Homo sapiens: one gene and its partners. The protein of the gene in region 2 interacts with the protein of the main gene of each other region in a pairwise test. Each region holds a gene or a part of one and is shown on either strand. Other genes may lie near its edges.

Region 1 (8,273 bases), on a different chromosome or scaffold from region 2:
TGCATGTCCAAGAATGACCATGAAAATACCACGAGTGTTGATTTGGGGGACACGAAGTTTAGTGAATAAGCAAATTTGCAAATATGGAATCTGAAAATAATGAGGATAGGCTGGATACACACAGGCAATGCAATGGCTTTTAGAACGACAAAATGATGTTCAACCTCACTATTTACTGGTGAAATGTAATGTAAAATTACTATTTGACACCTAAGATGCTGGCAACATTTTAAGTTCTGATAATACCATGTGCTAGAAAACATGAGGAAATAATAACTCATGTGTTGCAGGTGAGGCTATGAATGACTTGGCCATCATAGAGGGCAATCTGGCCATTCCTGGGAGAGGTGGGAGATGCACACCCGTAATCCTGCTTCCTGATCTCTGTCCCTGGAGGACTTTCACCCATAGGGACAAAGAGACTTGGGATGCACAGTCACTATAAGAGGGTCCCTATCAGTGAAAAGAACTAACCTTCACTCGGCAGTCAATGCATGATTCAAGTGGAAACTGACTCACAGAATGGAATACTGTATATTAGTTAAAATGAATTTAACTATGTATTAACATGGACTTTCAGACTGGAAAGGTCTCCACATCAACCTCCCAAAAAAAGTCTAGTTATGCATCATTTACAAGAGACCTACATAAAACAGAACACAAAAAGGTGAAAGACTAAAGAGTGGGACAGGAATCATAAAAACGGTTCCTGGCAAATGCAAATTTAAAAAGCATGTGGAACTCTATTATTGTTAGGCAAAACTGAATTCAAGGCAAAAAGCACTAAAAGGGACTGTAAAAAGAAACCAAAAAACCCCACAAAAACCTATATAACCTTAAAATACACACAAAATATTAAAAATAGAGAACTAATAGAAACTAGCAAATCCAGATTGAGTGTGGGTGACTTTCACAAATCTTCAGGTATCTGGTACTCATGTGGATAAAAAATATATAGATATTTTTAATAACATACTTAATACTCAATCTCACAGATGAGTCAAGAAATGTGCAGATACATCAAAGCACACGTATTTTTGAAACAACAGGCAAGATTCACAAAAATGGACCGTATCTAACTGGTTACAAAGAAAAATCTCAATAAATTATCAAGAATAAAACATAAACAGCCCATATTCACTAATAATAATGCAACAAAAATCAGAAAACAGTATCAAACAACAGAAGCCTAAATGCGTGGTGGAAGCAGGGAGATGGTATTCAGAGGAAACTTTACAGCTTTAAATACATTTATTTGAAAATTTAAAAATGACTAGTAAAAATTGCTTTTTCAAGAGGCTGGAATGATATAAAAAATCACTTGAATCACTGCATACACCGGAATAGCTACACTTAAAAAGGCTGACCACACCAATGTTGGGAAATATGTGGAGTCATCACAAGTCTCCCACACTGTGGGTGGAGGTAAAAAGAGTTCAGGAGAAGGCCCAGGAATGTCTTATAAAATTAAGCACACACATGCCCTATAATGCAGCAATTCTACGCCTAGTTAACACTAACAGAAATGAAAATGCATGTCCACAAAAAGTATAGAGTATTCCTATACAAGGAACTTTATTCATAGTAGTCAAGCCTGGAATCTGCTTAGGTGTCCTTCAACAGGAGAATGGATAAATCAACGCGTATGTTCATACCATAAAATGCTATTCAGCAATAAACAGCTGTAACCTACTGATACATGTACAACACAGATGAATCTCAAAAGCACTATGCTAAAAGGACGCCAGGCTTAAGTGGCTACATCCTGAAGGATTTCATTTCTGTGATGTTTAATAACAGGAAAAACTAGTCCATTACTTAAAAAATCAGAATAGTGGGTGCCTGGGGTAGAAGGGAGTTGACTAGGAAGTTGCACGACAGAGCCTGCAAGCGTGACAGAGATTCTGTATCTGGATAGGGTGTTTCGATTGCAGAGATTTATGCATTTGTCAGACCTTATAGTGCTATACTTAAGATGTGTGCATTTCACTGGTATGCAAATTTTAACTGAAGAAGGAGGAGCAAGAATCATAAACAGATACTGAACTCTCATTAATGATATATATGCTGAAGTATTTCAGGGTAAATGTACAAGTATCTGCAACTCAGTGAAATGAATGAAAAATCAGATGGATTGATGGACAGATGGAGGCTGGATGGAACGATAAGTGATAAAGTTAGCACAGTAAAATGTAAATGCTAGCATCTAGCTGGTGAGTATACAGGAGCCCACTATAAAATTCTTTCAACCGTATGTTTGAAATTTTTCATTATAAAATGTTAAGAAAAAGAAAACACCTCAAAACACAAAGGAAAGTAGTCCTTGATAAGAAAATTCAATTTAGATATTAATTCTCACCAAACTGACCTAAAAATTCATTGTAATTCCAATCAAACTACCATCAGAATCTTTCAAGGAAATCATGACATTCTTTAACAAGACATAACATGAAAAACAAATTATTAATTTGTAAAAGTTTTAATTTCTATATGATCAAGAAATAAGACATAAAGAATTATCAAAATTCATTAAGAAACAATGTAAAGGAAAAATGAGCGAAGAATATGAAGTGGCAATTGACAAAGAGGAGACATGAGTGCCAAGCAATGTGTGTCCACATGCTCAGCCTCACTAGTAACCAGGGAAATGGAGAACAAAGCAGGTCATTTATTCATTTTTCATCCTTCAGAGTGGCAGAAGTTAACAAGTTTGGAAGTCATCTTATGGAAGATAAGGAGAAATGGGTCCTTTGACGTTGTCGGGAAAGTAACCTACGAATGACCATTTGGCAGTATCAGTTTTAAAAAGGGGATGCCTGTGCCCCTTTAGTTTTTCCTCTTCAGAATCTCTCCTAGAGAAACCCAGCCACAGGTCTCAGGGCCAGGGAAGGGAGACGCGGTGGCACGAGTGGCTGGGATGAGGCTTCCCTGATGGGAATGCCTGTCACAATGGAACAGTCACATGCTCTGCACATGAGTCCAGAAACAGGGAAAGAGAGCATCTGGAAACCTCAAATACACTGAGATGGAAAGATTTCTGTGAATACTGTTAACTAAACATGTCAAGTATAGCATCATTTATGTAAAAAAGTATATAAAACTGATAAGAGGTATTTCTTTTTAAAAATATTTTTGTGTTTATTGTCAAATAGCACTCCAGAAATTTCTCATCAATAGTGTATAGGTAAGCATATTTCTTCATTGCCTCAATAATACTGAGTAATTTATGTGCTTTTAGACCTTTTTTCAAGTTGATTGTTTTGTATTTCCTTAGGTAGATGTATGTATGTACTGAGTGCCTACAAACTCCCTGGATGATTTACCTTTATGACAAGGGAGGCAGGAGGCCTGGAAGGATGGGAGGTCAGGCGGGACTTTCCGAAACTGCCCCAGTCATTTACATCAATGTGTGGATTAAATCCATAACTTAAAGTGAGAAGAAAGTCAATGTAAAAATATTGTGAAATAATTTATATAAATATATATATTTACAATTTGTATATAAATATATGAATGTTTAATATTTGTATAATTATAGCTCTGTAATTATATGTTATGTATTTACAATATATTATATAGTTACATAATATATTTATGTAACTATATATAAATGAACTATAAAAGTTTTATTTATAAAATACATAAATATAGGCCGGGTGCAGTGGCTCATGCCTGTAATCTCAGCACTTTGGGAGGCCAAGGTGGACGGATCACTTGAGGTCAGGAGTTCGAGACCAGTCTGGCCAACATGGTGAAACCCCGTCTCTACTAAAAATACAAACATTAGCCGGGCATGGTGGTGCGCATCTGTAATTTCAGCTACTCGAGGCTCAGACAGGAGAATTGCCTGAACTTGGCAGGCAGAGGTTGCAGTGAGCGGAGACTGCACCACTGCACTCCAGCCTGGGTGACAGGGCGAGACTCTGTCTCAAAAAATAAAATAACTAAAATAAAAGACATAAATATAAAATAAGAGAGAACAATAGTTCAACTTTTGAAATGACTTATATGCCTTTTTCCAAAGCCCCATAATTGTGCTCATGATGCAATTTCTTCTTTCCTTACTCTGTGTCTGAAGGACTATTAAGGAAAAATGCTCCATCACTATTGCTCAGCACAGAATCTTCCCAAATATCTTCCCTCTAGGTCAGGTGTGGTGGCACACACCTACAATCCCAGTGATTTGGGAGGGCGAGACAGGAGGATTGCTCGAGGCAAGAGTTTGTCACCAGTCTGGACAGCATAGTGAGACCCCATCTCTACAAAAAATAAGAAAAAATTATCCGGGTGTGTGGTGGCACGCACCTGCAGTCCCAGCTACTTGGGAGGCTGAAGGGGGAGGATGGCCTGAGCCCAGGAGTACAAGACTACAGTAAGCTGTGATCGTGCCACTGCACTCCAGTCTGGGTGAAAAGCCAGGCCTGTCTATTTGGGGGGGGAAAAAAATCTGCCCTCTGCAAGCAAGCTGCTGATGTCTGCTGAGACAGGTCGCTGCCCTGCCCAGCCTCCCAACGTGGTGTTGCAGCACATCATGGGTGGGTAATGGGTACAAGGCCCAGGGAAACAGAAATCAGCCAACACTGCACACTTTACCAACCATATAGTGTTCATGCTATTGTTCAGAACATCTCAAAGTGAAGCACTGCTCTCCAATATGTCTGAGGAGGAAATGCAGGAAACCCGGACAGTCACTGCTCATCTCAAACACCGGCAATGGAATGAGCACTCCTCTGGGTACACGATGGGAGAGTGTGGGCAGTTCAGAGGGGACTCTCCCAAGACAGCCTGGCCACAGTGGAATAACCTCGTACTGGGAAACCAGAGGCCTGAGTTCAAAGCCACTGCTGTCAGCAGCTCGTGAAGGAGTGTGAGCCTGGCTGTGAGCCTCGGTCTCCTCATCTGCAAGGTGGGGTTGAGACTCCCACCCACTGCCACGGGGTGGCCCAAGGCTCAGGGGCACACATTTATTAACTGCAGCTGGTAGTGCTGGGATTTCAGAGTGAATTACGTCCCTGTTTCCCAATGTCCTAATGAGCCGGTATCCTTCCTGGTGCCCAGGCAACCTGGCCTGTATATTTATACTCCTCTCAGTAGCCCTGTGTAAGGTCACAATCACAGAAAGAAATTAACCATTTTTGTTTTTCTGACTTTTTTTCTGTACAAGAAACATGAAAAATGTAAATGTTTCCCAACCCTAAGCAAGCACGTGGCCACCCCTGTGTGAAGCCCAGCCAACTTCTAGCAAATTCGGCAAAGACATGAGCTGGCAGGATTTAAACCCCGGATTCCTACATAACAAAAACCCTCAGAGCAGCAGAACACGGCTTGGGGAAAACAGATACTTACTGAAAGTTATGATTTGGGCTGTGCGTTGGACCTAAAAAGAGGAAACAAAAAGACAAGTTATTAATACTCCATGATTTGGAATACAACCTTCTTCAAATCAGGCCAGTGGCAAACAGGCTGAAGCCAGCGGGCTCACTGGTGGGCAGCTGTCCTCGGGCCTCAGGCTCCACTCGTGATTACGTCAGCAAGGCTGGAAACCACACACAAGGGAAGGGGTGCTTTGTCACTGAGGATATCTTTGTTTTTGGAGTTTTTGCTGTCCTTACTCTCTCTCTTCTCATCTAGTCTTTACACACAAAATCTGTTTTACTACTTATGATCGGATGGCGTGGGCTTCGGTGGCAGGGCCGGGGCGTTTGCTGCCTGGGAGTTTTTCACAGGTGGGATGAAGGGGGACACAGTCCTTCCTGCCACTTAATTCCTTCACCAGGTGTGACGAGCACAGAGACTCAGAATCTCTGGTCATCGCACTCAGCTCTCTCCCCACCCCAGCCAGGTCAGCCTCGGGCCCTACCTAGCCGTCCTGCAGTGTGGCCACTCTCCCACTGACACCTGACCTCCTAACAAACAGCCTTCCTGCTAAACACCTCAGCTCCTCGTGTGTGCCTGGGATTGTCTTCTGGGCTCCAGGTCCATAAACCTCTCCATCTGCACCTATTTTCTTTTTGTTCTCTTTTTTTTTTTTTTTTTTTTTTTTGAGACAGAGTTTCACTCTTGTCACCCATGCTGGAATGCAATGGCGTGATCTCGGCTCACTGCAACCTCCACCTCCCAGGTTCAAGCGATTCTCCTGCCTCAGCCTCCTGAGTAGCTGGGATTACAGGCGCCCGCCACCATGCCAGGCTAATTTTGTATTTTTAGTAGAGATGGAGTTTCTACTAAACTGGCCAACTACTACCATGTTGGCTAGGCTGATCTCAAACTCCTGACCTCAGGTGATCCGCCCACCTCGGCCTCCCAAAGTGCTGGAATTACAGGCGTGAGCCACCGTGCCTCGCCCTATTTTCTCTTATTACTAGTAAATGGGTAACAGGTCAAGCTGGGCCCTGGGGCACATGGGGAAGGCCCTAGGGAACGGTTTCATTGCTCTCCCCTCGTGCTGACTGGTGTGTGTTCAGTTTCAAATAGCAACTGGACCTCTTGCTCGGTGGCTGGGAACCTTCATATCTGCTAACCCACACAATTTCACTGTCCAACTCACCCAGCCGCACAAACAGGACGCCAGTGGCGGTAATGGTCTTCATCCCGTTGGTGGCCACGCACTGGTAGTAGCCAGTGTCTGTCGTGTCCAGGTCCTGGATTCGCAGTCGTGAACCATATTCTGTCTTCCGGATGATGATCCGCCGCGGCTCCTGCACCACCGGGGCATCATTCTTTAGCCACCGCACGTTAGGGGGTGGGTTTCCTGCCACCTTGCAGTGCAGAATTGCCGTCTGGCCTTGGACAATGGTGATATTGTTTACTGGCTCCAGAAAATTCAGAAAGTAACCTGCCAAGGAGAGCGGTCACAAAAGAGCAAGCGTCAGTGAGGGCTGGAAGGAAGGGCTACCTGGGGGCTCTGCTATGAACTCTTCCAAGGGAAGGTTTCGATTTTTGTCACCTACTAAAATAGGTTGTTATCTGCGGTAATTATCTTCTAGAAAGCTACAGGGAACACTGAATTAGTGAATACTGAACCACTGCTCCTATGGGAAATACAGAGTCAAATTCCTGTGAGCCTCTCGTCATAATACTTTCACCAACCAACCAATACATAACCTTGGTTTATGTGTGTTTCTGTTTAAAGACACCATATTCAATGTGTACTGTTGATTCCTTCACATTGAACCCATGGCCAACAGCCTCATAACTCATGCCTGAACGAAGCTTCTCTCACACACATTTTTTTCTCCATAAGGCATGTCGCAGCTTTCTTGCACTTAGGAACACCAGACCACTTCAGTGCTGTGCCTGGGGGCCATCATAAACAATAAAATCACCAACAAAAAGCCCAAATATGCAAGAAACTTGGCACTAAATAGACCAAGAAAAGGCCACATGTTCACAATATGAGGGCAGAAACCAGGGAGCAGACCATCGCCTTGTTTAGCCCCAGCTGGGACACAAATTTTTCACTGCCGTGGGCGTGTGTCTGTGAAAGGCCACAAAAGCACCGTAAGTATTGATTTGGAGGTTACAAATAGACTTTAGGTATTAGGTGAACTCACAATTACGGAATCTGCAAATGATGAGGATCAACTGTGCTTCTCTTTCCAAACACTACATCTAACCCAGGCTGGTCAAAATGATGTAAATTCACGCTCAGAAAGTCCCTCCTCCTTGCCTACCATATCATTAAGCACAAAGCCACAGAAGTAAAATATTAAAAAAAGATGTGTGACAAAACATGGACATCCCCAAACCAAGCTAATCACAGTCCTGTAAATAGAACAGAAGTTACAATGCTGATGAGGGGGAGCTGAAGGCTTTGTCCTGCTGCACCCAGGTCCAGAGCAGACAGAAGCAGTCCCGCGCACACACACTAGGGGGCACACAGGGTCTTAAAGCACCCAGAATGGGGAGTGAGTGGGCTGCTCCTAAAATAGGAGCTGGAAACACTGCCCTGATAAGTGGGGAGCCCAGTACAGCCACAGGCAGGAGCTCTAGGGGGCAACGCAAGGCTACAGGGAACAAGGGGAAGTGAAAGGGACAAAGGAGGAGGGATGTGTGTGAGTATGCATGTGTGGTGTTTGTGTGGTGCACATGTATGTGTGTGCCTGCACACGCAGGTGTGTGGTGTGGTCAAGAGGCTGGAGAACTACTCCGTCTCTTAAGAGGAACATGCAAATACAATTCTGTTAATGTAACATGTAGGGAAAACTAATGTTGGACAAGAAAGTTAATCATCAACATGAACTTACATCAGACAAAGCTAAAACAACACAGCA
Region 2 (8,273 bases):
ACCAATCTGGCCAACATAGTGAAACCCCATCTCTACTAAAAATACAAAAAATTAGCTGGGTATGGTGGCGCGTGCCTGTAACCCCAGCTACCCGGGAGGCTGAGGCAGGAGAGTGGTGTGAACCTGGGAGGCGGAGGTTGCAGTGAGCCGAGATTGTGCCGTTGCACTCCAGCCTGGGCGATAAAGCGAGATTCCATCTCAAAAAAAAAAAAGAGCCGGGTGTGGTGGCACGTGCCTGTAGATCTCAAAAAAAAAAAAAATAAAAATAAAAAAAAAAAAAATTGAGCCAGGTATGGTGGCACGTGCCTGTAGTCCCAGCTACTTGGGTGGCTGAAGCAGGAGAATGGCTTGTGAACCTGGGAGGCAGAGGTTACAGTGAGATGGCACCATTCAACAGAGTGAGACTGTATCCCCTCACCCCCCAAAAAAGAAAGAAAAGTGATTTAGTAAATACAGCCAACAATTCTGTTTCATTTGCATTTAAGTATCTTTTAAAGTTGCCTTTCAGATGAAATAGCCTATACAAGCAAGCATATAAAAATGTACTTAGAACTAGGCTTTAAAATCATTGTATCACAGAGAATTAAACCAGCATGTTCAAAAGTAATCAAGCATATTCTGTTACATTGCTCTCAGTACAAAATATGACATTCTACTGATAGAATGAAAAATAATTTTTACATGATTTTAATCTTATCCTTTCAGGACTCTTTTTCTATAAATACATTTGTAATTTATTAATACAGTATCACATATAACCCAGGAAAATTATAAAACTGGTATGTAACTTATAAATATTTACATATATATATCGAGTGGTTCATCAGATTTTTTTAAATGGCGATATGTAATTTTATTGTAAAGTTCAATAATGATCATACCTGGAAAAAATCTCACAAAGATACGTAGACCCAAATGGAGGTAAATTGATCTAGACCAGTGTCTCTCAAAACTTTAAATCACCAGCATGCTTTTTTGATGATTCCATCTAAGATCTATTGAAAAAAATCCTTAGGTGTGGGAATAGGGCTATGGAGTCTGCATTTTGAGCAGATATAACAGCAAACATTTTATGGTGTTTATTGTGTTTTAAGTGCTGTTTTAAGCACTTTACATTGACTCATTCTTCACAGCAGCCCTATGAGGTATAGGTACAGGTGACTAAGAAATTTGCCCAAGGTCACCTAGTTAGAGTGTAGGGTTAGCATTGTATGTAGAAAACATACCAGAGAATTCTTTTGCATACTTTTGGGAACCATTACTCTAAGTCTAATCTAAGTCATTTGAAATTGGGAAAGCTTTATTCTATAAAATAGTAAAGTTGGGTAGGCGGGGAGAGGGTGATGCATAGTAGTACTTTCCAATTCTAAGGATTTTAAGTCTTTGTCAGTCAACACTGGGTAGCTACTTCATGGATTTTAAGTTCAGCAAAGTGAAGTCCATTTTTTAGCACCATGTTAAAGGTATGTTTTTAACAGAATCAAAGTAATGATAAGGTTTTCAGTTTTATAGATATATAGTAAAAGTGATAAAACCAAATGTGTGTAGAATGGAGATTTTTATGTTTTAATTGAATTTTGGGGTTGTCTTTAGGTTCACTGGGAGGAGAAATCTTGATTTCAATACTTGCTTTTGAAAGTCTTCTAAAGTATATTAGTATACCTTCCTACCTTGATTTATTGAACAAGATGACTCACTGTTTTGAATATTCTCATTGTCCAGTCTTCTGTAAACTTACATGTCGAACCCTAGACTCACCTTGTAAATTAAATCAGAATGAAATTATTAATGAAGTTTTATTTCTTGTTTTTTCCTTTCTCCTAGAACAGTGGTCTCAACGTGGCTGCACATACAAGTCACCAGAGAGGCTTTTAAAAGATGATATCTGTGTCCCATCCCTAGGGATTCTGATTTAATTGGTCTGATTATTCTTACGCGCTAGGGCTGAGAAACCACTGTTCTGTAGGATGTAGGGGAGGAAATTTCTTGGGCTTTTGTTGTTGCTCCCGTAAATTAGGATAATACTAAAAAAAATACTTGAGGTAGGAGTTACTAGACTATAGAGGGAATATTGTACATACATTTTCTGTCAAATTTAAACATTTAACACCTGCATTTTTTATTTCAGATTTATTGCTAAACATGGGTGCATTTTTGGATAAACCCAAAACTGAAAAACATAATGCTCATGGTGCTGGGAATGGTTTACGTTATGGCCTGAGCAGCATGCAAGGATGGAGAGTGGAAATGGAAGATGCACACACAGCTGTTGTAGGTATTCCTCACGGCTTGGAAGACTGGTCATTTTTTGCAGTTTATGATGGTCATGCTGGATCCCGAGTGGCAAATTACTGCTCAACACATTTATTAGAACACATCACTACTAACGAAGACTTTAGGGCAGCTGGAAAATCAGGATCTGCTCTTGAGCTTTCAGTGGAAAATGTTAAGAATGGTATCAGAACTGGATTTTTGAAAATTGATGAATACATGCGTAACTTTTCAGACCTCAGAAACGGGATGGACAGGAGTGGTTCAACTGCAGTGGGAGTTATGATTTCACCTAAGCATATCTACTTTATCAACTGTGGTGATTCACGTGCTGTTCTGTATAGGAATGGACAAGTCTGCTTTTCTACCCAGGATCACAAACCTTGCAATCCAAGGGAAAAGGAGCGAATCCAAAATGCAGGAGGCAGCGTGATGATACAACGTGTTAATGGTTCATTAGCAGTATCTCGTGCTCTGGGGGACTATGATTACAAGTGTGTTGATGGCAAGGGCCCAACAGAACAACTTGTTTCTCCAGAGCCTGAGGTTTATGAAATTTTAAGAGCAGAAGAGGATGAATTTATCATCTTGGCTTGTGATGGGATCTGGGATGTTATGAGTAATGAGGAGCTCTGTGAATATGTTAAATCTAGGCTTGAGGTATCTGATGACCTGGAAAATGTGTGCAATTGGGTAGTGGACACTTGTTTACACAAGGTATGTAAACTTTTTTGTCATTAAAATAACATGTTAATTTTGAAAAGTTACGGTAGGTAAAGTTAAGCTAACTTAAAATTTTAAAACTTTTAATATTTTCACAGAAGCTGTATATTTTGAAGTACTTTACCAGAAATGAAACCATTGTTTTCTTTGCCATCCTTGTTTGTCCCAGCCTTCTAATTTGAAAATTAAGCTTGATAAATTTGAGGCATTTGTTGTCATTTAAGTACTTCATAGCTTGTTGCTGTAGCAAAAGCATTTACACAGAGTGACTTTTTCTTGACATTGGCAGTAACCATCTTATGCCTGATTATGAAGCAGCTTGATAAAATATGTATATAGTAGAATTCTGTACTAGATATTACTAAAAGATCAAGAGCCATGTGAAATATTGGAAGATGTACTAGATGCCTAGCCTGTATAAAATTTAGTCCTGAGCCTCCTAGCAGTGAAGACAAAAACTGAAATAAAAATATGGGTTGTATATTTCTCATTGTCTTCTAAAAGCAGCTCTTATCTGGCAATACAATCTAAAAAGGATTTACATGTGGCTCTCTAAGTAATACATGACTTGGATAGTATCTTTTGTAGAAGATAAAATTCTTTTCATATAGATGTTTTTATTATTTCTGATTAAAAACCAAAGGCTTCTATAAAACATAATCTTGTGAAAAATTCCTGTGGAACACTAAAGTTTATTTAGATTTGTAATTTTGTATGAATCATTGCTTGATACAGTAATAGAAAAAAAGTCCAGAGTAATAGATAATTGGCAATCCTTTGAATATCTTTAAAATACTCAGTTGTTTCAAGTGGGTTTTTGACAGCATCTATATATAATTCAATTAAAATTTGAGTTATCTGGCCAGTGTCTGGAGTGTGTAAGTATTTGACTGAAAAGATACCAAGGTAAAACTGACCTTTAGTTACATGAAATAAATAAAGGGTTTGACTTATTTATTCTGTCTAGATTAGAACCACTGTATCTCCCTACTCCAAAATGTACTGTGGAAGGTATGGGCATAACCAGAAAGTTTTTCAGAAAGGATCTCTGGGTCTCTGGAAATGCCCAGATTTTGGTTAAATACCGATTTCTTTTTAATAGAATGGAAAGAGGCAGTTTTAAAAACAGAAGATTTAAAGGCCGTTCTTGTCAGTGGACAGCCTTTTTCTGAAAGGATTTTAATGATGGTACCTCTAGCTCCTCTGATTTTTATTTTTAACACACTGTATCTTTTTACTTCTGGATGAGTTAAGTAAAGAAGTATTGATGGTTGTCAGTGATCAAATAGTAAGTGGGTCTAAAATTATGTATTTGTCTTTGAACTCTAAATGAAGCAATTCTGACCTGTAGATTTTTGAGACAAGCATAGGCATATGTTTGTTGCCTGACTAGCTAATGAAAACAGCATTTTCCCCAATTATAAAAAAAAGGTATATACTTACTATTGGAAAAAAAATCCAGATGATGAAGAAAATATAGAGAAACACCCAAAATTTTGCCATCCACCCTAAGTCAGCTACTTTCATTGTTGTGGTGTATATTGTTCCAGTCTTTTCTGCCTGCCTGTGAGTGTGTGTATTTTTATAAAACCGAGATGATTATACTTGTTATTCTACAGCCTGCCTTTTCCAACAATATATTGTAGAGAGATCTCCATGCCTATAAGTATTGATCTGTATCATTTTTCTTGGCTGCGTAGTATTTTATTGAAAGAATGAGGTTGTGAGGGAATAGCCAAAAAATCTATTAGGTCTGTAATTTGGACTAAGGAAAGAAGTTTGTGTTAGTAGATTAACTCACTTATCCATTGAAAGGATGCTAGTTTTTGAGAATTTTGACTCGACCCTTCTGAATGAGGTTTAAATATTTCTGGTGGTATATCTTCACTTGCTAGCTTTTATCAATTTAGAGTGATTAAATGTTCATGTTGATGGTGTTAAAAGATTCTAGATGGCATCCTAGAATCTCAGAAATGAGGAATGATAATAACAGACAAGAAGTTGGGGCCCATGATTCATTCAATGTTAATGGAAGCTGACCATCATAGTTCCTTCTAATGGAGCTGCATTCAAATTGAAATCAGTTTGGAGGTTTGAATTGAAACAAAACAGACTTAAAATTATTTTTGAACCTTTGAAAGTTACTTATGGAAACCTTCATTTCTGTTTAACTTCGTAATTTTGTCTTTCCATTTATTTGTATTGTAAAAGCAAGGGTTAGCAATAAGATCAAATATAATTACTTTGAATTTACTCAGAAAAATTGTAAGTTAAAAATTCATGGAAAGCACTTAGCGATTGCACAGTAGTTACCTGCTGTAAGAGGAGAGGAAACATTAATAAGTAGATGTTTCCCTGATAAGAGATTTAAATGAAGTCCTAGTTTTTTCTAACACCTCCATCACTTGTCATACTTTCATAATTTATAAGCACTTTTATCTTAACTCATTAAATCTTGGGAGGTTATCATAATCATAATCGTGGTAGTATTAGTAAATTATTGCTTTCTGTAAGCCAAACACTATTCTAAATACTTTACATATTTTAACTCATGTAATTTTCACAACCATATGAGGTAGTTAAGATGACGAGGTCAGGAGATCGAGACCATCCTGGCTAACGCAGTGAAACCCCGTCTCTATTAAAAAATAGAAAAAATCGGCCGGGCGTTGTGGTGGGCGCTTGTAGTCCCAGCTACTCAGGAGGCTGAGGCAGGAGAATGACTTGAACCCGGGAGGCAGAGCTTGCAGTGAGCCGAGATCACGCCACTGCACTCCAGTCTGGGTGACAGAGCGAGACTCCGTCTCAAAAAAAAAAAAAAAAAAAAAAAAAAGATAAGCATTTTTCAGGGTTGCCAGTTAATATTAATCTGTAAGTGTTGTATGACTGTGGTCAGGTATTATCCTATTTAAATTAGGTATTTAACTCGAGGGGAGAATGGGAGCTAAGAAAGCAACCCTCCCATTTTATTTGCAATGCTGGCATTTATGGTGTTTACTGCCAACTAATTTCGGGTTGCTTAAAATATGTAACTGCCACGTGCATAGCTTTTCATAACTTGTAAATGATACATACTTATTAATCCTCATAGTAACTTTCTGAGGTGAACAAAATAAAAAGTTTTTTTAATTTGCAAGTAAGGAAATGGAGGTTGTTTGATATTAAAAGATATCCATAAGTCATATACTTGGTGAGTATTGAGGCTGAGACTAGTTTTCTGACTCAAGTTTAGTATTTTTGTTAACAATATTTCCCAGAAGGGCCTGATAAAATAAAGAAGAGTGGGTGTGGGTGTGGGTGTGGGTGTGTGTGTGTGTGTGTGTGTGTGTAAGTGTCTGTCTGTTTCGGTTTTCATGGTCTGAGAAATTTTTCCCCAAGGGAAACATTAAGACTAAATTTTTTTTGTAACAAATACAGAGATGTTTGAAGTAAAGTGATTCCCCTTGATGTTTCTGCTTTCCAGTCTCATCTCACTTAGGGAACCACTGCTCATGGTTTGCTGTATATCTTTCCAAATGGTTCTCTGTGATTATTGATAGAAATGTATAAACGTAAAATAGGATTTTTTCTTTTTTTGTATTTTATAGAAAAAGATCATGCTATGTTTGTTACTTTGTCACCTGTTTTGTTTTTCTTAAATTATAAAAGTCGGTATTCTTTTAAATTGTTCTTTTAAAACATTATTTGATTTTCCAAAATTTCATTTATATACCATCTACCAGAAGCCTATTTATTTTAAAACATGAGATAGTACCTCATAGTTGGATAAAATTGAGGGAAATTATCATTTTCCAAAGGCAACATCATTCTATATTAATTTATATAACATAGAAAATGTAACCCCCTCAATAATTGTTTAGTTCTAAACTCAGGAGAATTGCTTGAACCTGGGATGCAGAGGTTGCAGTGAGCTGAGATCGCGCCATTGCACTCCAGCCTGGGCGACAGAGTGAGACTCCGTGTCAAAAAAACAAAAACAAACAAAAAACTGTATCAGATTGTTTTCTGTTTAAGTTTAGATGCCCTTATTTATGGCAGGGGCACTGGCGTCTTTGATCTGGTACTATGATTATTAAGAGTGTTAACTGCTGTGCTGTTGTAAAAAGTAAAAAGAACATGTAATAATCAATTTTTATATGCAGAGCTAATTTCTTTAGTTATCCAAACTGGATTTAGAAAAAAAAATGTTTTATTTATGGACTTAGTGAAAACTTTATACTGATTATACAAGGATGTTTTGTCTCTAAAAAACAATGGCACAAAGGAAAGGACCTTTTCTGTTGCTGTATAACAGCTACTGAAACATATTCATACTTGGTGTTTAGGGGAAAGCCATCTTTACATAGAAATAGAAGCAAGCCAGGCAAGGTGGCTAAGAAGCAACATCACTGAAATCACACATGCCTGAGATGTAAATATAAATTATTTCCCTTAAATGTCTTTGGAGAACCATAAATTTATTGGAACTCTCTTTCAATTAATTTTCCAAAAGTATTTATATTTTATAACTTACAAAAATCGAATGGAAATTAGATAAGGAAATGTTCCACAATGCTCATGTTGTTGTTACCAAAAACTCAAAAGGGTTAAAAGAAATTAGATTTCTAAAAGTGTAAGGTGTTAATTCCGTTTATGCATAAAATTGCTTTATAAAGTGTAATTATGCTTGATTCTTTTTTTGTTGTTGTGTTTTAGAAAGGGTGTCTCACTGTGTTGCCCGGGCTAGTCTCAAACTCCTGGCCTTAAATGATCCTCCTGCCTCAGCCTCCCAAACTGCGGGGATTACAGGCAGCCACCATGCCCAGCTGTTTGATTCTTGAATATCCATGGTGTACTTTAAAATTATTTTTAATTAAAAATTTTTGCTTGAACTGCCCTTATGACATTTATACAAGTATATTCATATAACCAAACACATACAGTATTTCTAATATAAAAGTTTTGGTGGGTTTCATTAAGGAATGAATTAATTTGGCCAATTTGGAAATGGTTTTTCCAGATAACCGGGAATCTAATGAAATACTCAAGTTGGTTCCTTGTTCCAAAGCACAACAATCTGTGACAAGTTAATTTATTTTGAAGTCTTCTGAAGACCCAACCTTCACTGCCTTCAAACTTTACTCCCATTGAATTAGGAGGTGAAGGCAGAAGTTATTCAAGGCCACCTGTCTTTTGGGCTGTGTCATGTAGGTTCTGAAAGGCATAAGTCTGAACCGAGCCATGCCTGCCTAGATTCTAGTCATAATAACTGAAAAGACTAGAAAGGGTGTGGTCTTGGT
Region 3 (8,283 bases), on a different chromosome or scaffold from region 2:
AGGGCTGGGGCTGGGGCTGGAGGGGCCCAAGCACCCTAGAGATGCCTCTAAGAGGGCCAAGATGGTGGAGGGGCATGTGGCAGAATGGGGGGGTGCCCACTGCAGGGTGAGGCCCAGCCAGGCAGGGGCATCCTTGGGGCTCTGCAGTGCCTACTGTGGTGCCCAGCAGGCAGATTTGGGTGCTGAGTCCCGGCAGCTACACTTGCAGAAACGCTATTATAACTGGCTAATTGGGATTCAGACATCTGCAGGAAGAATTTGGGAAGGTGCTGACCTTGTCCTGACAGCTGCATGTTCCCCACTTTGCCTCCCTCCTCCCTCCCATGCCCTGCACTCCCATCGGGGGTTGAATTGTGTCCCCCCAAAATATGTTCAAGTCCTGACCCTGATACCTGTGAATTGGGACCTCAGTTGGAAGTAGGGTCCTTGCAGCTGTGATCAAGAGGAGGCCAGACTGGAGCAGGGGGTCCTAATGCAATGACTGGGGCCTGATAACGAGAGGAGAGGACGGACACACACACACGCACAGACACACACGCACCTACACATATGCACACACATGCACACACCCCTACATACCAACACAGACACACATATACCAACACACACAGACACACCTATGGATATGCACAGACATGCACACACACCTGTGTACACATACATGCACACATACCAACACACCTACACATATGCAAAGACACATGCACACACACCTACACATGCACACACACCACATATGCACACACATCCACACCAACACACACATGCCTACACATATGCAGACACACAAACCAACACACACCTACACATATGCACACACATACACACCAACACACATGCACACACATGCCAACACACCTACACATATGCACATACACATGCAGACACACCAACACACACACATGCACACACATGTACACATACCAACACCGACACACGTGCCTACACATATGCAGACACACATGCACACACAAACCGATACACACCTACCTCTATGCACATATGCACACACCAACACACGCAACTGAACATGCACACACACATATACCTACCAAGACAGACACACACAGACACACATATACATACCAAGACACACACATCTACACATATGCACAGACACACATGCATACACACACATAGACACGTACACACACACGCACACGACTATGTGACGATGCAGGCAGAGGTTGGGGCTGCGCAGCCACAGGCCCAGGAAGGCCTAGGGCCACCAGTAGCCGGAAGAGGCAGGAAGGACCCTCCCCTGGAGCATCTGGAGGGGGCGACCCCGCCCACACACACACATCTACACATATGCACAGACATATGTGCAGTGGCGCCATCTCGGCTCACTGCAAGTTCCGCCTTCTGGTTTCAAGCAATTCTCCTGCCTCAGCTTCCCTAGTAGCTGGGATTACAGGCGCCTGCCACCATGTCTGGTTAATTTTTGTATTTTTAGTAGATACGGGGCTTCACCATGTTGGCCAGGCTGGTCTCGAACTCCTGACCTCGCGGTCCGCCCCCCTTGGCCTCCCAAAGTGCTGGGATTACAGGCGTGAGCCACTGCGCCCGGCCGATTACTGTTTTTAACAATTTTATTGAGATATAAGTCACATGCCATGAAGTTCACCACTTTAAAGGGTACAGCTTAGTGTTTTAGCATCTTCACCAGGGTGGGCAGCCATCACCTCTAGCTAATTCAGGGAAGTTTCCTCCCCCCAGGAAGACGCCCTGTGCCCCTTCTGCACTGCCCCCACTTGCCCCTCTCCCGGCTCTGGCCCTCCACCTGTGCTCTGTCCCGTGGATTTGTCTGTTCCAGACATTTCATACAAGTGGAATCACACACTCTGTGGCCTTCTGTGTCTTTCACTGAGCATATTTTCATGTGTCATCCATGTGGTAGCATGTGTCATGCATGTTATAGTGTGGTCAGAGCTTTGGTCCTGTGTATGGACCAATACCATTGCATCGTATGGACAGATCACATCCTGTTGATGGTTTATCTGTGGATGGGCATAACTGCTGAGTTTTTGGGTGCCCCCTAAACTTTGCTCCTGAGGTGCGTTCCTCACTCTGGTCTCTAATCCCCAGACCCCCAGGCTCTCTCCTGCCCCTGCCCCCTCTTTTCCACCACACCTGGGCTTCCTGCTGGGTTCTTGGCCTTTTTCCTCTTCGACGGGCAATGCTTCTGCACCGACACTCTCCCAGCCAATCTGGGCTCCTCGGTCAGCTCCTTCTGGGCTCTAGAGAGTCCCAGGGGCGGAGATCATGCCTTCCCCCAGGCCGGGGGATAGCAGACAGCTATGTCTTCAGGGACCTCTTACCCAGAGGTGCTCACTGATCCTGTCCCAGCGTGGGCAAAAGCCAGCACCTGGGGGGCCCCACTAGGGTCACGGTCAGTGGAAGCATCTGAACTCCTGGTTCCAGCGAAATCTCAGAGGGCCCTGTGCTTCCTGGAGAAGGGGTGTCGCTCTGGTTACGTAGGGTGGGAGTGCTGGCTTGGAGCCCAGGGGCAGCTCCTCCCCTGTCCTTCCTGGAGCCCCAAGAAGATCCACAGCTTGAAGCCCCTGAGCTGTGGCCCAGCCACAAGTGTACATGTGTGTGTTCACAGGCAAAACTGAGAGGAGCCAGCCCCTGGTCACAGCAAGCTGTTTCTGGCCCTGGTCATCAAGGCAGGGACACTGAGGGCATGGAAGTTCTGGACAGAAACTCTCCCCAACATGCCAACCAGCAACCACCCACGGCCACTGGCCACCTCCCCCTGCCTAGGTCCAGGTGTCTAGGGCACCTTCCAGGCTGGGCAGAGGAGGGCACTCCCTCCTGAGCTGGGGAGGGGAGGCCCTGACAGGGGACCCAGAGTGGAGACTCATGAGGGTATGCCATACCCTCTGTCCCTCACACTGGAGCACTCCAGGATCACAGCCTGCTGGCACCAACCATCCCTGCCACTGGGTGGGCACTGATCCTCCCAGCCCTCTGGGCTCCCTGAAGACACAGACTGAACGAGGTGGCCCAAGGCCTCTGAGTGCCTCCTGCGGGCAAGGCCCCCTTCAGCCACTCTACCCACGCGGCTTCTTTACCTGCAACGGCAGCCTGGCGGCAGCGCCCCTTAGAACCTTGGCTGGCCACATGATCAGGGCCAGGAAGAAGGCTCTGGGTGCCCTGTCTCCTTCTGCCCCAGGTGCAGTTGGTGTCTTGTCTCCTACAGCCAGGGACCCCTAAGGTCTGAGGGCACAGGGTGGAGGCCCCTTGCTTTGCCTGTTAGGAGGAAACTTCCTACATGAGGGACCCCCTTAGGAAAAGAAGGGTGGGTCCTGGTGCCCATCTGCCCCGTGGCCCAAGCATCCTGTCCTGGTCTCTGCAGGTCCCTCTGCCGGGAACAGGCTCCTTTCTCTCCCTAAAGTCCTAAGAGCCCTGTTGGAGTGGGCGCCTCTCACCTGCTCCACAGCCCCCAACCCCAACTGGGCCTTGCCAAGGGGCTTAGCCATCTGGTCCCAGAATGAGTGAGTGAATGAATGAGTGAGTGAATGAATGAGTGAGTGAATGAATGAGTGGATGAGGGTGCATCAAACTCAACTGCAAGTCTCCAGGACACTTTTTTTGAGACAAGATCTTGTTGTCACCCGGGCTGGAGTGCAGTGGTGCCATCTTGGCTCACTGCGGCCTCTAACTCCCAGGCTCAAGTGATCCTCCCACCTCAGCCTCCCAAGTAGCTGAGACTACAGGTGAGCGCCACCATGCCTGGCTCATTTTTCTAATTTTTGTAGAGAAAGTGTCTTGCTATGTTGCCCAGGCTGGTCTGGAACCCCTGAGCACAAGCCACCCGCCTGCCCTGGCCTCCCAAAGTGCTGGGATTACAGGCATGAGCCACTGGGACCAGCTTCCACTGAACTTTAACTCTCCCGACTCCCACGGGGGCAGGCTGGGGGGACCCTGCCCCGCCCCAACCCTGCAAGGTGGCACTTTGGGCGGGGATGGGGGATCCTGGGAGAAACATAGGGGAAGGGATGGCCCCTCAGCGCCCAGGCCAACCTGCTGCCCTAAGCACCTGGTACAGTCCACGGCAGGTGGAGACTCAGCCAGGTTCTTCCTTCATGGCTGTCGCAGCACGGTACAGGAGCAGGCCTGTGTGCAAAGCCAGCCACCCCCACTCCACCAGCACAGGTGCCACCCAAAGGGCATGGGGTGGGGGGGCGGCTGCCAGCCGCCTCGAAACCTGCAAGTGAGGCGAGGGCCCCTGAGCACCAAGACCCGCCCTGGGTGTGCTCCCGGGTTCCCCCACCTGTCTCCCTGAACCTTTCCACCTAGGAGTACCCCCTCCCCCACCCCGGCGTTCCCTCCGTACCCACTCACGACTTACCATTCACGACTTCCGTTTCCCCCCCCCCCGCCAGCCTCCGTGCCCCCCTCAGCCCCAGGCCGCCGTGCTTCCCGCTCCGGACCATCCCCCCACTCCGTGCCATCCCCGCTCCGTGCACGGCCCCCCGTCCCCCCTCCTCCATGCCTCCCCTCCGTGTCCCCCCTCCAAGCCCCCTTCTGTGTCCCCCACTCCGTGCTCCCCTCTGTCTCCCCCTCCGTGTCCCCCTCTCCGTGCTCCCCCCATGCCACCCCGGCCGCGGAGGGCCCCCCCCTCCCCCGCGCCGCTCCGCGCGCGCTCCCGCCCGCGTTTTCGGACTGCACCAGCGGAGCCCCGCGGCGCCAGGGCCGGGCGGAGCGCCTCGTCTGTCGCCGCCGCCCCCACCGGTGCGGGCTCTGCGGCTGCGGCGGGGGGCGCGGGGCGCGGGGGCCGGCGCGCTCCGCACCTGCGGCGGCCGCTGGGTGATGCGGCGGCTCGGGCCGGGGCCGCGGGCGTCCTGAGCGCAGCGCCCTCCCGGGATGCCCGCCGGCCGCTGGCCCGGCCATGTCGTCGTCCTTCTTCAACCCCAGCTTCGCCTTCAGCTCGCACTTCGACCCCGGTGAGTCCCTGGCGGCCCGGCCTGCGCGCCGCTGCCTCCCTCCGCTGCGGACGTGATGCCCCTGGGCCCCACGGCTCCCGGTTTGCATGGAAATTAACCCTTTCCCCGCCCCGAGCCCAGCAGCAGAAGCAGCCGGACCCCCTGGCGGCCCCAGATCTCGGAGGGGCAGGCCCTGGGCCCCAGCACAAACCGGCCTCCGCCTGTGGGCTGGCGTCCCCCGCGTGGTCGTGACTCCGTGGCTGCCTCCAGGGCACAGGTAACTGGGGCACGGAGGGCCTGCGTGGGCCCCTGGTGTCCAGGAGAGTTGGTCTCAGACTAAGGGCCCTTGGGGGTGTGGGGGGTGTCAGCCAGCTGGGGTTCAGGCTTTCCATGGCCTCTCCTGGGTCCGGGGCCCTGGCGTGGGAGGCTTCTTCCCAGGCTGGGAGCGATTCTCAGAGCCCTGCCCAGCCACCAGCAGCCGGCGGGGGATGTGGGGGGAGCAGGGGCCAGTCCACATTACAGAGCCCAGTGGGCAGAGGCTCAGAAGAGAGGGGCCTTGGTGGGTGCCCAGATCCCCTGACAGTGGGGGCCCGAGGTGACGCTGTCAAGCTGGCTGCAGGGGACCTGAGGCCAGGCCTCTTACCCCGTATGGCCAGTGCACCGGGCAGGGCGAGATTACCCATGGCTGCCTGGCCTCCTGGCTGTGGTGGACAGCTGGGATAGGCAGAGGGGGCTGGGGACAGCTGGAAGCCCCATCTGTCACCAGGAAGCAGTGGGCTTTCTAAAACCTCTGCTTCTCCAGATCCGGCCCCTGCTTGGCCTGAGTGGGAGATAATCCCCCTGCCCTGTGCCATCCATGGCCCCAGGGCCAAGTCCCACCCACACGTCACTGGGGCTCTGGCACCAGGCTGAGCCAGCCCAAACAAAGCCTGTTTGCATGTGACGTGATCTCCTGTGTCTCCTTCCCTGGAGCAGGGCCCAGTGCACGCAGCCTGGCAGGGAGGCACGGGGGTCCCCGGGGCAGATCTCGGTCTGAAGGCATTTGCTCCCTGGAGGAAGGGAGCTGGTGGGAGGTCTGTCTGCTGGGCTTAGGGCTGTGGGTGTCACTTGCTCAGAAATGACTTCCTGTAGTGACCCCTGGGGCTCGGAAGTCCCTGTGGGGTGGGCAGGTGAAGGCTCAGAGCCCAACAGCCACGGCAACAGCTGTAATGTCTCCCCGGCCCAAGGGCAGGGGGTGGAGGAGGCTTGGGGCAGGTCCTCATCACATCTCCATGCCAGGCGTGGCCCACGGTGCTTGGTCCTTTCTGCCCCCAGAACAGAGAGGACCCTCGGCCCATACCCTGCCTCGGGGCCCAGCCTTGTCCTTGGCCATGAGAGGCCCTTTCCCCCGCCTTCGAGCAGCACCGGCTCTGCCCTTCTCTGGGTAAACAGCTGTGATCTGAATAATTCTAATGTGTCCGTTTAATGACTTAGAGGAAAAGAAGTTGTTGGAGGCAAGGGGCGTCTCTCCTCTGCAAGATGCTGGGCCAGAGCTGCAGGCACCTGCTGGGCTCTGGGGCCCACCTACCAGGAGGGGCTGCCCAAGGTGCTGGTGCTGGTGAGGAAGGAGACCCTCCTTCGGATTAAGGGGCTGGGTCTAGGCTCTGCACCAGCCCCCATGAGAGGGTTAGGGAGGAGAGAGGGGTCTCCTGCCCTCCCGCTAAACTTAGCCCAGCCTTCCAAGCCTGGCTGTCCTGTGCTGCAGTCCCTCTGCCTGGCCTTGCCTCTGTGAACCTCGGTTTTCCCATCTATGACATGGGCCGACAGTACCTGTGGCAGGCCCGGGTGGGCTCAGTGCTTGGTGAGCACTTGGCTGTCTGTGCTGGAGTGGTGGTGCTGGGACAGAGACCCCCAGGGCCCAAGCTTCCTACAGCATGTGGCTGGCTCCTTGCCATCCCCGAATTGGAGCGAGCTGGTTCCTTCTGAGGCTGCTTGTGTCTGTGGGGGGGCACCCAGAGGGGAGGGGCCCACGCTTGTGGCTCTGGCAGTTGGCTTGTGTGTCACTCAGCATCTGGGGCAGTGCTAGCACCTGACATGGGGGTCTCACCTCAGTTGCCAGGCCCTGCCCCGCTGCCGGGCCGGCTCCTTGTTCATCGCAGGAACTGGTGCCAGTCTCCATAGAGGTGACGGCAGTTGTGGTGGTACAGGGGGCAGAGACGCCCGATAGTGCAGGGCCTGAGAGTGGAGGCTGTGGGCACAGACTGTGGGCTGCCTGGGCCCCTGACCTTCCGCACCAGGCAGATGCGGGCAGGGCAGGGGGCACCCGGCCCAGGAGCCTGCTTGAGTGCCAGGAAGAGCCGCCTCCTCTGGAGCCCAGCTCTTCCCCCATCTCCCTGACACTCGGGAGCGTGGCTGGGGGATTTCTTGGCAGCTGCAGCCTTCCAGCCTCTGTGCTGTGTGGCCTCGGACTACTCACCCAGCCTCTCTGAGATCCGTTCTGCACATGTGAAATCTTGCTCTGGGGAGACTAGTGTGGGCATGGCGGCCAGGAAAAGCAGGGTGATGGGGGTGACACATGGGCAGGATGGCCGGGTCCAGGCTGGCAGGAAGGGGGTGGCATGGCCTTGAGCGAGCAGAGGTCACCCCTTCTACCTGAGTGCCCCAAGGGAGGGGGCTGGCCTTGTTGCTCACCCTCCCCAGCCTTCACCTTCCCTGGTGCGGCCTCAGGGCGTCATGATTTCTAGTCGTCCTGAGCCCTGGGGCCTGGAGCTGTCCTAGGCTGGAAGTGGGCATGGGGACACCGCCTCGCTCCGGCTTCTGGAGAGGCGCGCTCAGCCTGAGGGTGGGGGTCAAATGCTCTGCACAGTTAGGAGCAGGGGTTTGCCCTGGGGCCACCTCTGGTTTGCTGAGGGGCCCTTCTGTGACTGGCTCTCCATGCCTGTTTTGTCATCTGTAAGGTGGGAATGGCTGTGATGGCCAGGTCTGAAGGGACAGCAGTGGTGCACTGAGCCAAGGGTGGGTACCTGGGCAGTGCCTACCATGGCTGATCCCTGACGCAGAGGTGTCACTGTTGACCAGTGGGCAGGGCTTGGAGTTTGTGGAAGTTCTCGGAACACGTGGCAGCCTGGATTTGCCACCCCCCAACCCCCGCCTCTCCCCTGTCCCTCAGCTCACGCCCTGTCTCCTGCCCAAGGTCTCTCCCTGTGTCTGACCTGAACCAGGCGCCATGGGGGGTTCCTGGGAGAAGTGCCTGTGCCTGGCCACGGTGCTCGCTCTATCAGCATTCATGTGAACCGGACACCTGGCACAGGGCTGGGCAGGCTGGGCCTCAGGATGAGCCTATTGATGGGGAGAGGGCAGAGGAGGCAGCGAG
Region 4 (7,175 bases), on a different chromosome or scaffold from region 2:
ACTGCACTCCAGCCTGGCAACAGAACAAGACTCCATCAAAAAAAAAAAAAGTTAATGTAATTTAGTTACGTTTCATATATAGTGTATAATATAATATATTCACATTGGCTCAAAATTCTAAAAAGAGTATTAATGAATGAAAAATCTCCCCAACTCTTTCACTTTGGAAAAGAGTTGGGCATTATTTTGTATAGCTAGAGATATTCATATTCTAGACTTCGTCTTAGGTATCTTAGAGAAACTCATACATGTGTACACTTATAAAAGTGTTCATAATAACGCTGTTCTTAATAGCCCCAAACTGGAAACAACCCATTGGCATTAGAATTAAAGTATGAGGCCAGGCGTGGTGGCTCACGCCTGTAATCCCAGCACTTTGGGAGGCTGAGGCAGGCTGATCACTTGAGGTCAGGAATTCAAGACCAGCCTGACCAATGTGGTGAAACCCCATCTCTACTAAAAATACAAAAATTAGCTGGGTGTCATGGTGGGCACCTGTAATCCCAGCTGCTTGGGAGGCTGAGGCACGAGAGTCACTGGAACTTGGGAGGCAGAGGTTGCAGTGAGCTGAGGTCATGCCACTGTACTCCAGCCTGGGTGACAGAGCAATACCCTGTCTCAAAAAAAAAAAAAAAAAAAAAAAAAAGAATTAAAATATGAGATGTTTATAATGAAAAACAGACCATGTCCAGTGATTTAAAAAAATTAACCTGGCTGGCCCAGTGGCTCACACCTGTGATCCCAGCAGTTTGGGAGGCAGAGATGGAAGGATTGCTTGATCCCAGGAGTTTGAGACCAGCCTGAGCAACATAAGGAGACCCCCGTCTCTACAAAAAAATACAAAAATAAAAAAGGCTGGGATTGATGGTACACATTTTTGTCCCAGCTACACAGGAGGCTGAGTTGGGAGGATCACTTGAGTCCAGGAGGGCGAGGCTGCAGTGAACCGTGATCACCATCACTGTACTCCAGCCTGGGTGACAGAGTGAGACCCTATCTCAAAAAATAAAGGCCGGGCACAGTGGCTCATGTCTGTAATCCCAGCACTTGGGAGGCTGAGGAGGGTGGATCATGAGGACGAGATCGAGACCATCCTGGCCAACATGATGAAACCCCATCTCTACTGAAAATACAAAAATTAGCTAGGCGTGGTAGTGCGCGCCTGTAATCCCAGCTACTTGGGAGGCTGAGGCAGGAGAATCACTTGAACCCAGCGGGGTGGAGTTTGCAGTGAGCCGAGATCGCACCACTGCCCTCCAGCGTGGGTGACAAGAGCGAGACTTGGTCTCAAAACAAGCAAACAAACAAAAGAATCTTACAATGTTGTGAAAAAAAAAAAAAATCCAGGCACAAAAGAGTATACATTTTGTGTGCTTCCAGTTTTAATCTGGCTCTGAAACAGGCAAAATGGAATTATATTATCTAGGAACATGTAAGTGGTAAACTACAAAGAACAAGAAAGAAATTATCACAAAAGTCAGGGTAGTGGTTACTCCTTGAGGGGAGGGAGAACATATGGTTGGGAAGGAACTCTTGAGTGCTAGCATTGTTGGATTGTGGTTTTTTTTTTTTTTTCCCACAAAAAAATGTAAGCCAGAAGTTTTCTTACCTTTCTACCTTCTAGCCTCCAGTTCCGTTCCTTGGAGGCAGCCAGTCATATGGGTCTATATGCCTTAACACATACACACACGTGCGTGCACACACACAGACACACACGCTATATATATATATATATATATATATATATATATATATATTTTTTTTTTTCTTTTTTTTTTTTTTTTTTTAATAGAGTCTCACTATGTTGCCCAGACTGGTCACAAACTCCTGAGGTTAAGCAGTCCTCCTGCCTCAGCCTCCCAAAGTGCTGGGATTACAGGCATGAGTCACCATGCCCAGCATACACACACATATTTTTAACACAACTAGTAGAAAAGATAGACTTTTGAAGTAAAATGAAAAAGAAACAACCCATAAAGATATCATCTAAGATCAGGCATGGTGCCACTCACCTGAAATCCCAGTGCTTTGGGAAGCTAAGGCAGGAGGATCGCTTGAGGTTAGATATTTGAGACCAGCCTGGGCAACGTAGCTAGACACCGTCTCTACCAAAGAAATATATATATATATTTTTTGAGATGGAGTTTTGCTCTTATTGCCCAGGCTGGAGTGCAATGGCGCAATCTCGGCTCACCACAACCTCCGCCTGCTGGGTTCAAGCGATTCTTCTGCCTCAGCCTCCCCAGTAGCTGGGATTATAGGCATGTGCCACCACACCCAGCTAATTTTTGTATTTTTAGTAGTGCTGGGTTTATCCACGTTGATCAGGCTGGTCTCGAACTCCCAATCTCAGGTGATCCACCTGCCTTGGTAAAGAATTTTTTTTTTTAATTAAAAAGTAAGCTGGGGGCTGGGCGCAGTGGCTCATGCCTGTAATCCCAGCACTTTGGAAGGCCGAGGCGGGCGGATCACAAGGTCAGGAGATCGAGACCATCCTGGCTAACATGGTGAAACCTCGTCTCTACTAAAAATACAAAAAAATTAGCTGGGCGTAGTGGCAGGCACCTGTAATCCCAGCTACTCGGGAGGCTGAGTCAGGAGAATGGCGTGAACCCGGGAGGCAGAGCTTGAAGTGAGCCGAGATCATGCCACTGCACTCCAGCCTGGGCAACAGAGCAAGACTCCGTCTCAAAAGAAAAAAAAAAAAAGTAAGCTGGGCATGGTGATGCACAGCTATAGTCCTAGCTACTTGGAAGGCTGAGGTGGGAGGATTGCTTGAGCCCAGGAGTTTAGAGGCTGCAGTGAGCTGTGATCATGTCACTGCACTCTAGCCTGGGTGACAGAGCAAGACCCTGTCACTTGAAAATAAAAAATATCAGCTATGATTTCTGCCCACTTATTTTTCACTGGACAAGTGGTTACTATGTATGTGCCCTTAGGCCCATGTGCCACTCACTTAATCTGGCACTTGCTGTGTGTCAGCATGGTGTCAGGCACTTTAGTTTGCTTAGTTCAGTCTTCTAACAACCCAGGAAGGCAGGTACTGTTATTATCCCCATTTTACAGAGAAGGAAGCTGAGGCTGTTGTGCTTCTGGGCTTCCTACGCAGCACACCAATAGTGTTGAAACGCTACCAAGGGTTGTGTTGAGGGTGGTCATCTTGATGCCTATTCCTGGGCTGCTCTAACAGGCCCCTTTATCTCTCCAGGTGGCCCTATGCACCCAGGTAGCCCTGGGCATGGAGCACCTGTCCAACAACCGCTTTGTGCATAAGGACTTGGCTGCGCGTAACTGCCTGGTCAGTGCCCAGAGACAAGTGAAGGTGTCTGCCCTGGGCCTCAGCAAGGATGTGTACAACAGGTAGAAGGGCATGCGTGGGGTGGGGGCTCCCCATTTTTTCCCAGAGGGTGAGGGGCAGAGGACAGATAGTTTGGGGGGTGTGGGAAAGGGTTTAGTGCCTGCTTAGTCCAAAGCTGGAGGGCCTGGGATAGGGAAGAGCTTTCTCATCCTTTTTCCAAGGGTGCAGCAGGCTTCCCACCCAGTGCACACCCTTGGTGGTTGTAAAATGTCTCTAGCGATTAAATAAATAAATAAACCTTTTTTAAAAAATAGGCAAATTTGATAAGGATTTATATATAATCTATTTATATGGCTCTCTCTGTAACTTCCTGAATTCAGTCATTATTATTTTGAAGTCTGAGACTTATGCCTCAGCACCCATGCCAGAGCTTGCTCTAGACAGCCTACGAGGGCTCTGCAGCGCTGCCGGGAACATCACCCTGAGTCCCTCTGGTTCCAGGTCACCCCCATTTGTCTGACTATAGCTGTAGTGAGGATTGGTTTATCACTAATAAAGCTCTTTCCATTTAACAGTTCTTAGTTTTTACATTTTTACAACCAATATAGAAAGTATGTATGACTATTAACTTTTCTGTTAACATTTAGGCAAAGTTTGATTCTTAATGGAAATTTTTTAACCATCAAACCTCTCGTGTGGTTACCTCCAGATTTTGTCTAGTGTACTCCCATGCTCAGCACGCATGTGACCAATTTCTTGATGTCTGTATGTAGAAAGGCTGGGCCCCCGGCTTGGGGATGCGTTCCAGATGGGGAGATGAGGGTGCAGCGCCAGGCCACGCTCCCACCCCACCTCACCCCTGGGTTGCTTCTCTCCTGCAGTGAGTACTACCACTTCCGCCAGGCCTGGGTGCCGCTGCGCTGGATGTCCCCCGAGGCCATCCTGGAGGGTGACTTCTCTACCAAGTCTGATGTCTGGGCCTTCGGTGTGCTGATGTGGGAAGTGTTTACACATGGAGAGATGCCCCATGGTGGGCAGGCAGATGATGAAGTACTGGCAGGTAGGCAGCCTTGCTGCTAGGGGATGATTCCAGATGGGCCCCAGATGGGGCCTACTCAGGGCCCCAGGGCTGGTTCAGCCTACCTCCCTCTCAGGGCTGCTACTGAGCAGGCACACAGATACAACCACTCTGGTTGTTAAAATACTGCAATACTTTGTTTTTCTTTTGAGACGGAGTGTCGCCCTGTCGCCCAGACTGGAGTGCAGTGGCCCGATCTCCGTTCACTGCAACTTCTGCCTCCTGGGTTCAAGCGATTCTCCTGCCTTAGACTCCCTAGTAGCTGGGATTACAGGCACGCACCTCCACTCCCTGGCTAATTTTTGTATTTTTAGTAGAGATGGGGGGGCTTCACCATGTTGGTCAGGCTGGTCTCAAACTCCTGACCTTGTGATCCACCCGCCTCGGCCTCCCAAAGTGCTGGGATTGCAGGCGTGAGCCACCACACCTGGCCGAAAATACTGCAATACTTCTATATTGGTTGGTAAATAGCCTTTGCCCCCAGTGCCCACTCCAGCCACTCTGACGCCTGTCCGCCAGCCCACTTCAGCTCCTATGCATGGACCCCGTCCTACCAGCCAGAGTGAGTGGGGCCAGGGGAGTCATCTTTTTCCGTTGCGGGTACCCACCTGCCGCTGGCCAGCATTGCCCCAGAGGCATCCTTGGGTGGCTGCTTGTATAAACTGCAAGGTCCACAAAGTGTTGAACAAGTTGTTGAATGTTTTGGCCAACACTGCACCTGCTGTCTTCCCTACAGATTTGCAGGCTGGGAAGGCTAGACTTCCTCAGCCCGAGGGCTGCCCTTCCAAACTCTATCGGCTGATGCAGCGCTGCTGGGCCCTCAGCCCCAAGGACCGGCCCTCCTTCAGTGAGATTGCCAGCGCCCTGGGAGACAGCACCGTGGACAGCAAGCCGTGAGGAGGGAGCCCGCTCAGGATGGCCTGGGCAGGGGAGGACATCTCTAGAGGGAAGCTCACAGCATGATGGGCAAGATCCCTGTCCTCCTGGGCCCTGAGGCCCCTGCCCTAGTGCAACAGGCATTGCTGAGGTCTGAGCAGGGCCTGGCCTTTCCTCCTCTTCCTCACCCTCATCCTTTGGGAGGCTGACTTGGACCCAAACTGGGCGACTAGGGCTTTGAGCTGGGCAGTTTTCCCTGCCACCTCTTCCTCTATCAGGGACAGTGTGGGTGCCACAGGTAACCCCAATTTCTGGCCTTCAACTTCTCCCCTTGACCGGGTCCAACTCTGCCACTCATCTGCCAACTTTGCCTGGGGAGGGCTAGGCTTGGGATGAGCTGGGTTTGTGGGGAGTTCCTTAATATTCTCAAGTTCTGGGCACACAGGGTTAATGAGTCTCTTGGCCCACTGGTCCCACTTGGGGGTCTAGACCAGGATTATAGAGGACACAGCAAGTGAGTCCTCCCCACTCTGGGCTTGTGCACACTGACCCAGACCCACGTCTTCCCCACCCTTCTCTCCTTTCCTCATCCTAAGTGCCTGGCAGATGAAGGAGTTTTCAGGAGCTTTTGACACTATATAAACCGCCCTTTTTGTATGCACCACGGGCGGCTTTTATATGTAATTGCAGCGTGGGGTGGGTGGGCATGGGAGGTAGGGGTGGGCCCTGGAGATGAGGAGGGTGGGCCATCCTTACCCCACACTTTTATTGTTGTCGTTTTTTGTTTGTTTTGTTTTTTTGTTTTTGTTTTTGTTTTTACACTCGCTGCTCTCAATAAATAAGCCTTTTTTACAACCTGTTTCTGAGATTCATTCCCTGCTCTTGCTCGTGGAAGATGTTCCTTTTTCCCCCGCTGATGAGAAGGGGCCGTGTGCAGGCCGGGTGCAGTGGCTCATGCCTGTAATCCCAGCACTTTGGGAGGCTGAGGCCAGTGGATCACCTGAGGTCAGGAGTTCGAGACCAGCCTGGCCAAAAAGGTGAAACCCCTGTCTCTACTGAAAATATAAAAATTAGCTGGACATGGTGGCAGGCGCCTGTAATCCCAGCTACTTGGGAGGCTGAGGCAGGAGAATCGCTTGAACCCAGGAGATGTAGGTTGCAGTGAACCGAGATCACACCACTGCACTCCAGCCTGGGTGACAGCGAGACTCTGTCTAAAAAAAAACAAAAAAAAAAAGAGAAAAATGAAAGGGCCATGTGCCTTCATGGAGTCTGGTGGGGCTTGGACAGGATGAACCGGTGGATATTGGTTCTTCTCTCCAGTTTGCAGGGCAGGTGAGCATGCAGGCATGAAGAAGGCAAGATCACCTGTTGTCTGTGCAACCCTGTGCTGTCCTCTGACTGTCACCTAGACGGGCCTAATCCTTGTGCTCAGATGGGGAGGGTAGAAGCGTGAAGGGGAGCAAGTTAGAGTAGGATTGGAGAAGGAGTTAGTGACAGACTCAGGTCTCTGAGTCCTTTCAAGACCCTAGGAGGGAAGTGAAGTAGGTAGAACCAAGCAGAGAGACGGTGCTTAATGCCTGGATCTTGTGTCCTCACCTATCCTCTGCCTCATTCCAGTAACTTCAGCCTGGTTCACCATCCAAAAGAAACGAGTCCTGAACTCCAAAACTGCTCTAGTTCCTTTACTCCTCACCAAACTTCTGAATAATAAAAATAACAGCAGGCTGGACATGGTGGTTCACACCTGTAATCCTAATACTTTGGGAGACTGAGGCAGGAAGATCACTTGGGACCAGGAGTTTGAGACCAGCCTGGCCAACATAGTGAGACCCTGTCTCTACAAAAAATTTAAAAATTAGCCAGGTGTGGCGACATGCACTTGTAGTCCTAACTACTGAGGAGGCTGAGGCAGGAGGATCA

What was found.
Region 1: the proteins of PPM1B (region 2) and ROR2 interact in a two-hybrid assay, tested with the Homo sapiens proteins (one study listed by BioGRID and IntAct).
Region 3: the proteins of PPM1B (region 2) and AATK interact in a two-hybrid assay, tested with the Homo sapiens proteins (one study listed by BioGRID and IntAct).
Region 4: the proteins of PPM1B (region 2) and PTK7 interact in a two-hybrid assay, tested with the Homo sapiens proteins (one study listed by BioGRID and IntAct).

The regions. Positions count from the first base shown.
Region 1 is NC_000009.12:91,750,725-91,758,997, forward strand, and holds part of ROR2 (tyrosine-protein kinase transmembrane receptor ROR2 isoform 1 precursor), read right to left. Parts: intron 6,836-8,273; coding exon 6,548-6,835; intron 5,378-6,547; coding exon 5,347-5,377; intron 1-5,346. UniProt on the Homo sapiens protein: Tyrosine-protein kinase receptor which may be involved in the early formation of the chondrocytes. It seems to be required for cartilage and growth plate development. Phosphorylates YWHAB, leading to induction of osteogenesis and bone formation.
Region 2 is NC_000002.12:44,199,058-44,207,330, forward strand, and holds part of PPM1B (protein phosphatase 1B), read left to right. Parts: intron 1-2,128; 5' UTR 2,129-2,142; coding exon 2,143-2,988; intron 2,989-8,273.
Region 3 is NC_000017.11:81,162,607-81,170,889, reverse strand, and holds the start of AATK (serine/threonine-protein kinase LMTK1), read left to right. Parts: upstream 1-4,668; 5' UTR 4,669-4,897; coding exon 4,898-4,952; intron 4,953-5,142; exon of another isoform or gene 5,143-5,383; intron 5,384-8,283. UniProt on the Homo sapiens protein: May be involved in neuronal differentiation.
Region 4 is NC_000006.12:43,155,609-43,162,783, forward strand, and holds the end of PTK7 (inactive tyrosine-protein kinase 7 isoform a precursor), read left to right. Parts: intron 1-3,208; coding exon 3,209-3,360; intron 3,361-4,179; coding exon 4,180-4,358; intron 4,359-5,112; coding exon 5,113-5,273; 3' UTR 5,274-6,107; downstream 6,108-7,175. UniProt on the Homo sapiens protein: Inactive tyrosine kinase involved in Wnt signaling pathway. Component of both the non-canonical (also known as the Wnt/planar cell polarity signaling) and the canonical Wnt signaling pathway.